Linked DNA regions of Homo sapiens. The protein of the gene in region 2 binds, or shares a complex with, the protein of the main gene of each other region. Each region holds a gene or a part of one and is shown on either strand. Other genes may lie near its edges.

What was found. The genes of interacting proteins can lie anywhere in the genome.
Region 1: FBXL13 (region 2) and DRC4 share a complex: the UniProt entries of both Homo sapiens proteins name them as parts of the nexin-dynein regulatory complex.

The regions. Positions count from the first base shown.
Region 1 is NC_000016.10:90,039,680-90,045,460, reverse strand, and holds the end of DRC4 (dynein regulatory complex subunit 4), read right to left. Parts: intron 5,701-5,781; exon of another isoform or gene 5,162-5,700; coding exon 4,952-5,161; intron 2,992-4,951; coding exon 2,926-2,991; intron 2,560-2,925; exon of another isoform or gene 2,266-2,559; coding exon 2,116-2,265; 3' UTR 501-2,115; downstream 1-500. UniProt on the Homo sapiens protein: Component of the nexin-dynein regulatory complex (N-DRC), a key regulator of ciliary/flagellar motility which maintains the alignment and integrity of the distal axoneme and regulates microtubule sliding in motile axonemes.
Region 2 is NC_000007.14:102,812,797-102,819,945, forward strand, and holds part of FBXL13 (F-box and leucine-rich repeat protein 13), read right to left. Parts: intron 3,532-7,149; coding exon of another isoform or gene 3,390-3,531; exon of another isoform or gene 2,855-3,389; intron 2,844-2,854; coding exon of another isoform or gene 2,780-2,843; exon of another isoform or gene 1,621-2,779; coding exon of another isoform or gene 1,593-1,620; exon of another isoform or gene 736-1,592; coding exon 546-735; 3' UTR 1-545. UniProt on the Homo sapiens protein: Substrate-recognition component of the SCF (SKP1-CUL1-F-box protein)-type E3 ubiquitin ligase complex.

The sequences.
Region 1 (5,781 bases), on a different chromosome or scaffold from region 2:
GGAGGTTTTCCAGAAGTGACTATGGGCAAAGCCACGGTTATTCAGAACCCTGATAAGGGACCAGGGCACACAACACAGACGCTCCGTGGAGTTGGACAGGCCCACTCTGTGGGTGAAGGTTTGGTAGTTATTGACCCAGAAAGCCACACACTTTTTTTTTTTTTTTTTTTTTTTTTTTGAGATGGAGTCTCGCTCTGTCGCCCAGGCTGGAGTGCAGTGGCACGATCTCGGCTCACTACAGCCTCCGCCTCCTGGGTTCATGCCATTCTCCCGCCTCAGCCTCCCGAGTTGGGACTACAGGTGCCCGTGACCACGCCCAGCTAATTTTTTTGTGGTAGAGATGGGGTTTCACCGTGTTAACCAGGATGGTCTCGATACCCTGACCTCATGATCCGCCTGTCTCAGCCTCCCAAAGTGCTGGGATTACAGGTGTGAGCCACCACGCCCAGCCAGCCATACACAATATTTTAAGTGAAAACCACAGGTTATAAAACAATACAAATAGTATAATCCACTTTATAAGTTTTTAAACAAATATACTTATGCATAGAGAAAATCTGGAAAAATATATGCCAGCTATAAAGTGGTTCTTGCTCATGGGATAAATTGTGGGAGACTTTTTCCCTTTTTGCTTCTCTGTGTTGTGATTTCCTAAAGACAGGGCAGTGGTGTCCCTAGACTGCTCTGGAACTGCAGGACCTAACAGCCTCACTGTGTCTGCTCACCCAAGTCTGACAGGTGGCAGGGCAGTGTCTGAGGCCCACTGGGATGCAGACCCAGGAAAGCTGGGGTGGGGGGCTTCTGGTCCCCATCTCTGCAGCCTCATCCTCTCCCCAGCTACACAGACCCAGATGGTCACTGTCCTGGACCAGATGAAGGCAGGCACCTACAAGCTCACCTTCGACACTGAGGGCTACTGGAGGAAGAGGGGGCAGGAAAGCTTCTACCCACATGTGGAGGTGAGAGCCCCAGTGGGCTGGAGGGGGCTGAGGCTCATGACTCACTGGGATCTGCAGGCCAGGTCCTGCTGGCCGGGCATCATTTAGGCAGTGGGCAGACTGGTCCTGGGCGGTGGCAGGTAGGTGAGCTCACTTGCTTTGAGCTCCCAAAAGAAAGGTGTCCAGGCAGCAATAGACTCTACGAGGACACACCCGTCACTCACCTGCCCAGGGTCAGGCTTTGTGGGGAGGCTGGGCCAAGGGTGATTCATCCCCTCTTTGTTGACAGAGGTTTTCATCTGAGCCAACTCCAGCTCTCTGGGCCTAACCTCACTGCCTCACCCCACACTGGAGCCGCCGCAGAAGCGCCTGACTTACTGGGCTGTGGCTTCTGTGGAGTGTCCCTCTGGTGCGGAAGGTTCACCCCATCCCAGACCCTCAGTCTGGGCTGCTGAATTCTCTCAGGTGTGTTGGGGCCAGATAGGTGGTTTGCTGCTATCCCCTTATACTCTCTCCTGGCCTCTCCATCTCAGGTTGTTTTAACCATCACCAGCAAGGCCCAGAAGTTCCACGTGCCCCTGGTCCTACATCACCTACCGAGGGAGTTAGAGCGAAGACTGGCAGCGGGAGGCTGCCTGCCCGTTCCCGCACGCTGGCTGCACCCACCCAGCCCTCAACAGAGCGGGCTTTGTGCTCATCAGGGAGCATTGGCTCACCACTTCCTAGGGAAGTCCCGGCCCCCTGGAGAATCCCACTGGGCAGCTGTGACTCAGGTGTCAATGAAGTTAGTGCCAGCACCTGCAAAGCTGTCCATTCGGTGGGACAACAGTGGCGCGAAGACAGGCAGCACAGCGCGGCACTGCCCCAACCCCCAGGTGAGTGCGGGGCACTCTGAGAAGGTGCCGCCGACTGTGGTCGGAGGTGAGACCAGGGAGTAGGCCTGGACACAGGCTGGACGTGCGGCACCCAGGGAAGGGAGCGACAGGGACACCATGGGTGAGGGTCCTGCAGGTGGTTCTCCTCCACAGAGCCAGGAAAGAGGATGGCAAGAACATGTGAAAAGCTTTCATTTGCTGATGATAAAATCTAAAAAACTTGCTGTCCTTGGTGTGATAAGGGGTGTCATCCCGAGTGTTCCTAGGCTGGTTCTCTGGGCTGTGGCCCCCCAGGGGGGCAGCTACGTCGGGGTGCCCACCAGTCCCGCGGGGCCCTGGCCCAGTGTCTGTCCGATCACAGCTGTTTCCAAGGGCTTGAAGCCCACGTTGTCCAGAGGGATCCCGAAGGCCAGCAGCTTTGCCTCATACGTGCGCAGCAGGTCGTTATGGGCCTGTGGAGACAGGGCAGTGTCAGGGAGCTGAGGGTCCCCACGCTCAGGACCACCAGAGCTGAGTGCAGCTCCATGGAGGGGCAGCGTGAGCATCACGGTGCAGAAGGATAAAGCCAAAGGCTTATCAGTCATTTCCCGTGTGGGACACAGCTCCAAGCACCTTCACTGCGTTGGCTCAGGTAGCACGACAGGGAGAGGCTGTCACTATTCCTATTCCACAAATGACGAGACGGAGGCAGAGGGCAGGGACACTCAGGGCAGAGCTGTGGTCTGGGAGGGCTCTGGGCCCTGGCTGGGTGTTTCCCACTCAGGTTCTTCACGCCCTCCCTTCCCCTGTTGAATGACGTCTGTTTCCTTCCCCGGTGGGCACAGCACCTTCTGACTCCCTGCCCAGGGGAAGGGGCTGACCAGGGAAGCGTCCAGGTCCCCCCCTACACCCATCCCAGCAGAGACATGGCCTAGACAGCAGTGCACTGCCCCAGACCACACAGAATCCAGATGCTCTCGGCTATGACTGCACCCTCACGTGGGGACAGTGACAGCTGCCTTGTCAAACGAGGTACGAAGTGGGCACAGGTGGGGTCCTCAGAGACCGTCTGCATTTAGAACAGTCTGGGCACCGAGGGGGTGCCCCTGAGGGAGGGCAGGGCACAGCCGTACCTTACAGACCTGGGCCAGCTCATACTGCAGGTCCTTGATGGTGCTGTTCTTCGACTCAAGAACATCCTGAGGAGAGAGAGGTGATGGGAGTTTGAGACTCATCTTTTGGCCGAGGCAACGGGAGCGGCCTGGGGACTCCAGTGGGCGTTCTGAGAGATCCAGCGAATAGCAGCCTGGTTTGATGGATGCATCCATCCACACAGGGTTGTCAGCAGAAAAAGGTCTCCAAGGGTGGAGAGAAAACAAGGAAGAAGCAGAGAACTGGGAGCTTGCACAACCTGCCTCTCCAGCAACAGTCCAGGCCAGGCACTGCCGCTCACACCTGTGATCCCAGCAGTGTGGGAGGCCAAGGAGGGCAGATCACTTGAGGTCAGGAGTTTGAGACCAGCCTGGCCAACGTGGCGAAACCCCGTCTCTACTATACGAAAAGTAGCCGGGCACGGTGGCTCACACCTGTGTAATCCCAGCTACTCAGGAGGCTGAGGCATGAGAATTGCTTGAACCTGGGAAACGGAGGTTGCAGTGCGCCGAGATTGAGCCACTGCACTCCAGTCTGGGTGACAGAGCAAGACACCGTCTCAAGAAAAAACTCAAAGAGCAGTCCAGACCACAAGAAATGCAGATGAGGTGAGGGCAGGCAGCGTGCAGCCACACTGTGGAGACTGGTCACTAAACACCACCTACATATTGCTTAAATTTCTTGAGGCTTGTGAATGTACTATCTCACTTTTTTTTCTGAGATGGAGTCTCGCCCCGTTGCCCAGGCTGGAGTGCAGTGGCGCGATCTAGGCTCACCGCAACCTCCGCCTCCCAGGTGCCAGGAATTCTCTGCCTCAGCCTCCCAAATAGCTGGGATTACACCCGCCACCAAGCCCAGCTAATTTTTGTATTTTTAGTAGAGACGGGGTTTCACCATCTTGGCCAGGCTGGTCTTGAACTCCCAAACTCGTGATCTGCCCACCTCAGCCTCCCAAAGTGCTGGGATTACAGGCGTGAGCCACCGCGCCCGGCTATCCCACTTTTTTGTAACAGAAAAAAGTAGTCTTCAGCAGCGCTGGCCCCGCCCAGATGTGGGCAAGGGTCTCACCACGTGGCGAGGCAGGGACTTCTTGGGCTCCTGCCTGTGGGGCACTGCTGGGCCCAGCCTGGCTTTAGAGCCGTCCCTGCTGCCCACTGACACAGCAGCCCCCTCACACCTGGCCAGCAGCAAACAGTGTCCCTGCGGGGGCCTCTGTCATTTCCCCAGAAGATTCCTCACTTAGAAGTCGAGGTAACAATGACCAGGAAAGGAGGGGTTGACCCACATTTAGCTCCATCCTCCATCCTCACCCTGGCGCGTGGGCGCAGCTGCAATGACCCTCACAGGCCACGACTGCTCTCTTCACCCTCATTTCGGTGGCTTAGCAGCAGGCTGGGTGCAGCCCTCAGCCAGGAGCTGGAAACACGCCTCCCCCACCTCCCAACAGTGGGACCCTCACTCCCTCACCTGCCTGTGCTCACTGGGCCCAGTGCTGAGCAAACAAAGATGAGTTTTCAGTCCCGGGGCCACAGTGCCTCTGGCCCAGGTGAGGCCCCTCCTATACAGCCTCACTACCTCAGGCCCTGAGAGCCAGGCCATCCCAGATGACCAGGGTCCCACAGGCACCACCGCCCACTGGGCCGGGACCCGTCGTTCCCCCATGTGCAAACACCAAGTCACCTCGGCCCCTCCCAGCCCCACCTGTGGACTCAGCCTCCTGGCGGCTCTCCAACCCTCTGCCCGTCCCCATTCTGTGCTGGCCCCAACCAGCCCCCTCCAGCCCTGTGCTCCCCATCAATAGCAGAGTGGGCCCTGATCTGGTTCCCCTGCCCAGCCCTTCCACAGTTCCCAACTGGCCCGAAACTGGCCACAGGAAACCCATGAATGCCCCTCCTCAGTGGCCGACCGAGGGGTCTCTGTGCCTATCCGAGGAGCAGCACAGAACTGAAGACTCTTGCCACAGGGATGAGGCCGCCCACTGGGGTCAGGAGCCTGTCTAGGGCCTACCTCCAGCTTGCGGGACACCAGCGTCAGGGCTGCAGGGTCCAGGTTAGAGGCAGCCAGGACCTCGTTGAACTGCACCTCCTTCTTCTCCACAGCGGCGCTCAGAGCCTGCAGCTTGCGTTCTAGCACGAGGTTCTTGAACCCTGTCTTCTGCTGCACCTCCTGGATGGCTGCGGTGAACTTCCGATAGAGCTCGTCCCGCTCCTGCTGCACCTGTAGGGACAGCGCTGGGGGTGGGCGATGAGGCCCCTCACCTGGGGACATCTCGCTGGGAAGATGCTGCCTCCCACCTCTGCACCTGCCTGGAACACGCTGCCTCCCAACAGTGCCCACTCCCACAGCACCGGGGTCAGTGTGTTGTCCACACTGCCTGCGCCCTGGCCCTTTGTAGAGCCATCCACGCAGTGGAAGGCAGGAGGAACACATCAGCATAAGCCCTTCTCTCAGGAAGGTGTCTCTGGAAGCCATAAGTGTCCTGGTAAGAGCTGAAGCAGCCCCACCCTGAAAGCTGCTTCATGGGTGGCCGAGGCCAGTCTTGCCCGAGTGAGGGCTGTGGGCTCAGGTGAGATTTGAGATCCAGGGCATCCAGCAGGCCGAGCTTGCAGGTGGGGCCCCTTGGAGGATATGCTCCCTTGGCCAGCCCCAGATCCTGGCATCACATGTGCTGTCCGCCCCACAAATGGTGGATCTGGAGCACGGCCTTGGAGCCAGCTACCTGCCAGCCAGTAAAACTGTTCTTTTTTATCTCCTAATTCTTCTACTTATTAATTGTGCATTCTAAAAAAATCTAGACTTTGTTGAAGACTATAAAAAAGTGAACACCCTGAGCAGCG
Region 2 (7,149 bases):
AATTTAGGCAGAAATTTTGTGTAGTCAGTACTTGATTTGGCTTCTTTTTTTTTTTTTTTTTTTTGAGACGGAGTCTTGCTCTGTCGCCGAGGCTGGAATGCAGTGACGTGATCTAGGCTCACTGCAACCTCCGCCTCTCAGGTTCAAGCAAGTCCCCTGCCTCAGCCTCCTGAGTAGCTGGGATTACAGGCGCCCACCACCACACCCGGCTAATTTTTGTATTTTTAGTAAAGATGGGGTTTCACCATGTTGGCCAGGCTGGTCTTGAACTCCTGACTTATGGTCCACCCGCCTTGGCCTACCAAAGTGCTAGGATTACAGGTGTGAGCCACCGCTCCTGGCCTGGCTTCTTTTTTAAATCATGATTATTTAGACAGAAGAACTACTGATGTGTTTGGAAATATTTGTAGTTGGAATAAGAATCAGAAGATGGTTTGTTGCTTGTTTACATTGTTATTGAGATTCAGCTAGTAAACATACTTGCAACAAATGGAGAAAACTTGCCAAGTTCTTGATTTTTTGTTCTTCCTGCTTGAGGCTGAAGGTCACGCTGCTTGGTCTTCACTGCTGTATGTTGACTTTTTCACTGTTAATTCTAAGGCTCCTTTAGATGATGTTATGTTGTCAAGCTCTGTAACAGGGTTTCCTTCCCTATCATAGCCAAACCAACGTGGAGGGTCATTAGTGTTGTATTCCTGCTGCTGAACTTTAGATGACATTCTTTGAGCTGCCTTCCTGTAATAACAGTGCTTAGCATTAGCTAGTTGCAGAAGTAACCCCTAGTGCAAAATTTTCAAACTCAACCAAATTTGGAGTTAGGGAATTCACTGTCACAATCTGAATTCACATGAGACCTCTCTTGCCTTGCTGAGAGTGAGGATATGGGTAAGTGTACAAATAAACAGGGTCCCAAAGCCTCAGTAACTCTGATTCAGCCAGTTCAGAAATTAACAGATACAGTGAATGGGTAAGGAAACTACACATGGCCATGGAAGAGGAACACTGAGGCCTCTATTTATTTATACTGCTTTAAGTAAGCCCCTTCCTTGGTATTTCTAGTTTCTCTGATGAGGGAGTAACCTAACCAGCCTACCTGTGAAGGCTGACCATGCACCAGGCCAGGAGCTCTTAACCCAGAGTTCACAGATCCCTTTTGACTACATGGATGAACTTCAGGGAGGTCCATGAACTCCCTGAAAGTTCATGCAGTTTTGTCTATAATACACATTTTTATGAGAAGGTTTGTGACTCAAAGGTGTCACAACACTATAACACAGTATTAAAAAATACTGTTATAGTCTTTCTTAGCAGGAAACAAGAAAGTAAAGAATGCATCAGAAAAAAAGTAGGTCTAACTTGAAAACAAAGCCATTTTGAGGACAGAAGGAAGAATTTCCTTTCCTAGAAAGTTGGTTTGAATCACGAGATTAGTACTAAAGAGGAGATGAGTAATTGACCACTTCTGTACGATTAGAAATGAGTAACTATGATGTTTACCCATGAAGGCACTACCTTCCCCACTCTTGCCGTATGTTACCTTGAGTTATTAATTGCAAAAGTCTGGAAACTGAGTCATTGATATGGAGCTGGCATTACCATACACTTCGAGTTAAGTTTGTGCTGAATGGCCATATGAGTTCAGGTAAGGCAATGAAATAGGAAGAAAAAAAACCAACAACATAGAGATAACAGTTTAAAATGCTATTTCAGTTAAATCAAACTTTAGATGTATTAAAATAATTGTAACCAAACTTAACAGGGAGGTAACCAAAGCATTCCTAATTCTGCCTCTAAGCACATTGCTTTTTAGCTTATTATTGGCTCTCACACAAAACTTCTACAAACTTAAAGAACAAATTGAGTAAAAGCAATTATCATATACTAATTCCTAGTTTGGAGCCACCAATCCCTATGGACTAAAACTTGGCAAACAAGTTTATTCTCTTCAGAGAAATATTTATTCTCAGTTTTGAAAATGGTAAGTTTATTGTCAAAGATAATGTTTTGCATTCTGTTAATTTTTTAAATCTTTTTTTAAGGTGCTAGCCTGCATTTTAAACCTCTTATATAATCTTTACATATCCTCAAAGTAGAACATTACTATGCAAAAGTAGTGGGTTTATATCTTTTGCTTTTCCCACATTATTCTCCTAATGATATTTCTCCCTTTTCAATTCTATAAAGGTGAGATTATCATATCTTTCAACACATTTTCTGAACATTTTTCCCCTTAAGACTTACTGAAATATAATACCAAATGTTGAGGCATATAACATTAGCACCATCAGTTTCATGTAACAAACAGCAAGGCTCCATCATTACCCTTCACCCATCTCTATCAGTCTAAACATTATCCATTTTTCAAAACTCCAAACCAATCCAGCCTCCTTGGAAATGGCTCAAACCCAGTCTTCTCCTCCTCTAAACATCTACAGGAAGTTGATCATAGAATTAATTTCTTTCTATTACATAGCTTCAGGGCATTAATTATTTATAATTTTAAACTTTGTTATTTTCCTTTTGTTTAAGAAGGTAGTAAGTTACTTAAGAGTTTATTACATTTCTTTGCATCTCCCTGAAACTCATCATGAATAGCTCAAACGAGAGATTTCAGCAGCTTACACCAAGAAGGGAAGTCCTTTAACCCTCTTGGCTTCTGCTGGATTGCTGGTCTAGAAGGGGCATTCTTATGTTCCTATTTCCAACACCCTCCTGCCCCCTGCCTCCCAAACACCAGAGTTCTGGACACACACTGCAGTTCACAGTTGTTCATAATCATTCAATGCCACTGATGTTGACTGTAGTACAAGAGTAGCACAGTTAGAGGCAACAATGATCTTGACCTATAGGAAAAGGAAATGCTTGTTTTAGGGAGTAAAAGATTTGCAAATCCTCATTCACCAAGTTACATCTTACCTTAATGTCAGAAGAGCAACAGTTTTGACGGCTCTAGATAACTGGTAAGAGGATAAGTACTACTAATGATAAGTCTGGGAAAGTGTAAATATTGAGTCCTATGGTTGCTCAGTCAGCTACAAGCCAGGGTAAATTAGATGGTAATTGTGACATAAAACAATTAGCAAGTAGTGGGGGTTTGAGAAAATAACAAGAAAAAGGAAAGTGAGAATGCTGACTCCTTAATATAAGATAAGGAAAACAGTGAGTGAACAGGGAGACTACTCATTTAATGCAGTGTGATGGGACAGAATCGAAATGAGCTGCATGTTGAACCCCAGCCATGGGTGAAGTGCCCACTGGTATATGCATTTCTTTAATGTCCTCATTCCTTAGTCCCTGTCCCCCTTACCCTAGCTCTGCTCTCCAGTCCACCCACAGACAGCTTTAGTGAAACCAAACATCAGTGGGTCCCTGACTATTGGAAGTGATGCTTACTGACTGGAGGGGAGCAAAGGATCAGATCTCAGACCCACTCTCCTTCCAGACTCAAGTTCTGGGAGGTTAAGGCTTCCTCCACCTGGTATGTCTTTAGGGCCTGTTTTAGTCTGAAGTGCTTTCACAGCAAGGGTGGTCCTAGGGAAAAACAGAAAATATGAATCTGTCCTGGAGCAAATCTAGGATTATTTTTAGAGAGCTATGGATACTAGTATAGACTATTCCCTATTCCACTTCTTTCCTGCCCTTCAGAAAATCCTTAGCCGTGACTAGCTGTCCTCACCACCTTTGGCATCCTCACACGGACTGACTAACCTAAGACCCAGGACCTTGCCAAGAGAAGAGATCGGCAAGTGGCTGCCAGAAGGTTTTTCTGAGTTCTTTATCATAGCATCCTATGTAGCTGTGTGTTTGCACACACGCACCTTTAAAAAAAAATTTAGATTCAGGGTGTACACGTGCAGGTTTGTTATGTGGGTATATTACATAATGCTGGGGTTTGGGCTGCTATTGAACCCATCAGCCAAATAGTGAACATAATGCCCAGTAGGTACTTTGTTAACCCTCGCCATCCTCCCTGCCTCCCCACATTTGGAGTTCCCAGTGTTTATTGTTTCCATCTTTATGTCCAAGTGGTTAGCTCCTACTTTTAAGTGAGAACATGCAGTATTTGGTTTTCTGTTTCTCTGTTAATTCACTTAGGATAATGGCCTCCAGCCGCATCCATGTTGCTGCAAAGGACATGATTTCATTATTTTTTATGACTGTGTAGCATCCCATGGTCTGAATGTACCACATTTTCTTTATCCAATCCACCACTGACAGGCACTTAGGTTGATCCCATGACTTTGCTATTGTGAATGATGCTGCAATAAACATACAACTGCAGGTGTCTTTTTGATAGAATTATTTCTTTTCCTTTGGGTAGATACCCAGTAGTGGGATTACTGGATGAAATGGTAATTCTATTTTAGTTCTTTGAGAAGTTTTTATACTGCTTTCTATTTTGGCTGACCTAATTTACATTCCCACCACAGTGTAAAAGCATTCCCTTTTTTCCACATCCTCACCAGCATCTTTTATTTTTTGACTTTTTAATAATAGCCATTCTGATTGGTGCGAGATGATACTTCATTGTGATGGTAATTTTGCATTTCTCTGATGATTAGTGATGTTGAGCATTTTTTCATATTTTTGTTGGCCACTTGTATGTCTTCTTTTGAGAGGTGTCCGTTCATGTTTTTGCCCACTTTTTAATGGGCTTATTTGGTTTTTGCTTGTTGATTTGTTTAAGTTCTAGATTCTGGATATTAGACCTTTGTCGGATGCATAATTTGATAATATTTTTCTCCCATTATCTTTACTCTGTTGATAGTTTCTTTTGCTGTGCAGAAGCTCTTACACATGTATTTTGAATCGTATCAGGAAAGTTAAAAATGTAGAAACTATATTTCTGGGAGAAACCTCTCTCTCTCTCCTGCCCCTCCCCTTTCTCTCTTAATAGCTTGATGCTGTAGTGTGATCAGCACATGGGAGCTAGGAAATATTGAAAAAAACATGTATTCTTAGGAACCACTGTGTGTTCTAAATTCCATAGAGCACATATGGAATTCTTTGACTGCATTCCATTCTGCTTTGGCCTAAGTGACTGTGAGACCCCGTATGAAATGATTTGGGAATTGAACCAATCTGCTGCAATGGTTACTCATTTATCCTGGTGAGAGGTTTCTTTGGATCAGTATAGAACAGTGATTTTCAAACATGATATGTCATAGTTGTAACATTTCACATTAGATGGTTAATAATAACACTGTACTGAAGTTTGTTAGTGATTTTTGTTTCTTATAAATTAAAAGGGATTCAGGGTTAGCCCTGTAGTAACACTGTGTGCCTTAGCTCACATTTCCTTCTAATCTCTTGAGTAGGCAAAAAAAGGGAATGTTGGAGCCACCACCAAGGACTGCTCATAATCCACAGCCTCTCTTATTGTGCATCAGACATAAATTAGGCAAAACAGAGCACGTGTCTACCCTTACTGACCACATCCCTTGAATGTCAGAGCTTTTTAAAAGCTTGAGAATGTAATATAAAGGCGAAGAGCAGCACAGTATGATTAAGACCTAGGTACAAAGTATGGCTCTCCTTATTTGTGTGGCTGTGGGCACATTATTTAACCTGTTTAAACCAGTTTCCTTATCCATTTTGATGATAAAGTGTATTTGTGAGGCAATATCTGTAAAATAGGATTTAGCACAGTACGTGGCAAATAATAATTGTTAAATAACATTATTTGTTCATACTGATAATAAAAGTCAACAGCTCCACATCAGAAAGGCTTGAACCTTTCCATGAGCTAGAGAGGAGAACTCTGATAAGAGTTTTATTTTTTATCAACACAGATCTCCTAGAATGCCTGAGCAGTAGGGACTGTCCGAGTTTAAGCTTCTAGCAACTGCTAAAGAAGGCCTTCCAGGAATTTCATACTGTGATTTGGGGCTCTGAAGGCCACTAAGACTTTCTCTACTAGTTCTCTAGAATTGAAGGTTTTGGGCTCCAGATAGAAATATATCAAAAGTTCCCTTTATTTTTTTAAAAAATTTATTTCCAACTTTTATTTTAGGTTCAGGAGTACATGTACAAGATGTACAGGTTTGTGACATAGGTAAACGTGTGCCATGGTGTTTTGCTGCACAGATCATTCCATCACCCAGGTATTAAGCCCAGTATCTATTAGTTATTCTTCCTGATTCTCTCCCTCCTCCCACCCTCCACCCTCTGACAGGCCCCAGTGTGTGTTGTTCCCATCCATCTGTCCATGTGTTGTCATCATTTAGCTCCCACTTATAAGTGAGAACATGCGTTATTTGGTTTTCTGTTCTTGGATTAGCCTTTTCGCTAACTATACAATTAGTGATTCTTCAGGTTCTCTGTGGTTCAGGCCCTCCTGGGTTGTGGGGGCCATTGTGAGGGTCTTTCTTCCTCTCTCTCACTCCTACCTTGTTGCCTTTCCCCACAGAGGGCCATAAGTTGAATGGCTGGCTGTCACAGCTGCTTCAAATACAAATAGCTTGTCGTTTTCTGATCATAGTTGTTACTTATTCCTCCTTGAAATAAAGGAGCCTTTATCTTGCATCCACACGGTGCTTCTGGGGTCACTTCCTGGAAACCCTTCAGACTCTGGGGTTGGTAGAATGCCAGCCATATCTTCTGCAGGAAACTCTCCTGCAAAAGGGCTACAGCCAATTTGCTCATTGACCAAAAGTTTGCTACTCCTCTGGTTCAGAAAGGGTGAGCTGAGCAGACATCTTTGATTTGCAAAGCTGGTGCAGTAGTTTCAGATTCCATTGAGTATGAGTGAATTTATGTATAAAACAGCCTCTTCTGACGGCTGTAATTGGACCTTAAGGGCTGCATCATACATTGTTTTCATGTTCAAAATGGAATCAAGCATGTGGAGAGCATTGCTTTGTGATTCAAAGACATTGAGCTTCTTCCCAAGCCAGAAAAATCTCTCTTATCCCACCTGCCAAAGGTTCTGTTTCACCCAGACAAATCAAAGCCTCTGCAGTTGAGGGAGCCACACTGGCCCTGATTAGATAGTGAGCATAGGTAAGGGATTAGAGATCATCAAGGGCTTGAGTTTTGAAGGGTCTACATACACTGTGCATTTCCAACTGCACTGAAGGATCTAAATGCAAAACGAAGCTGCTCCATAGAGCACCCGGAGCTGATCGCAGAAAGCTGCATGCAACTAGG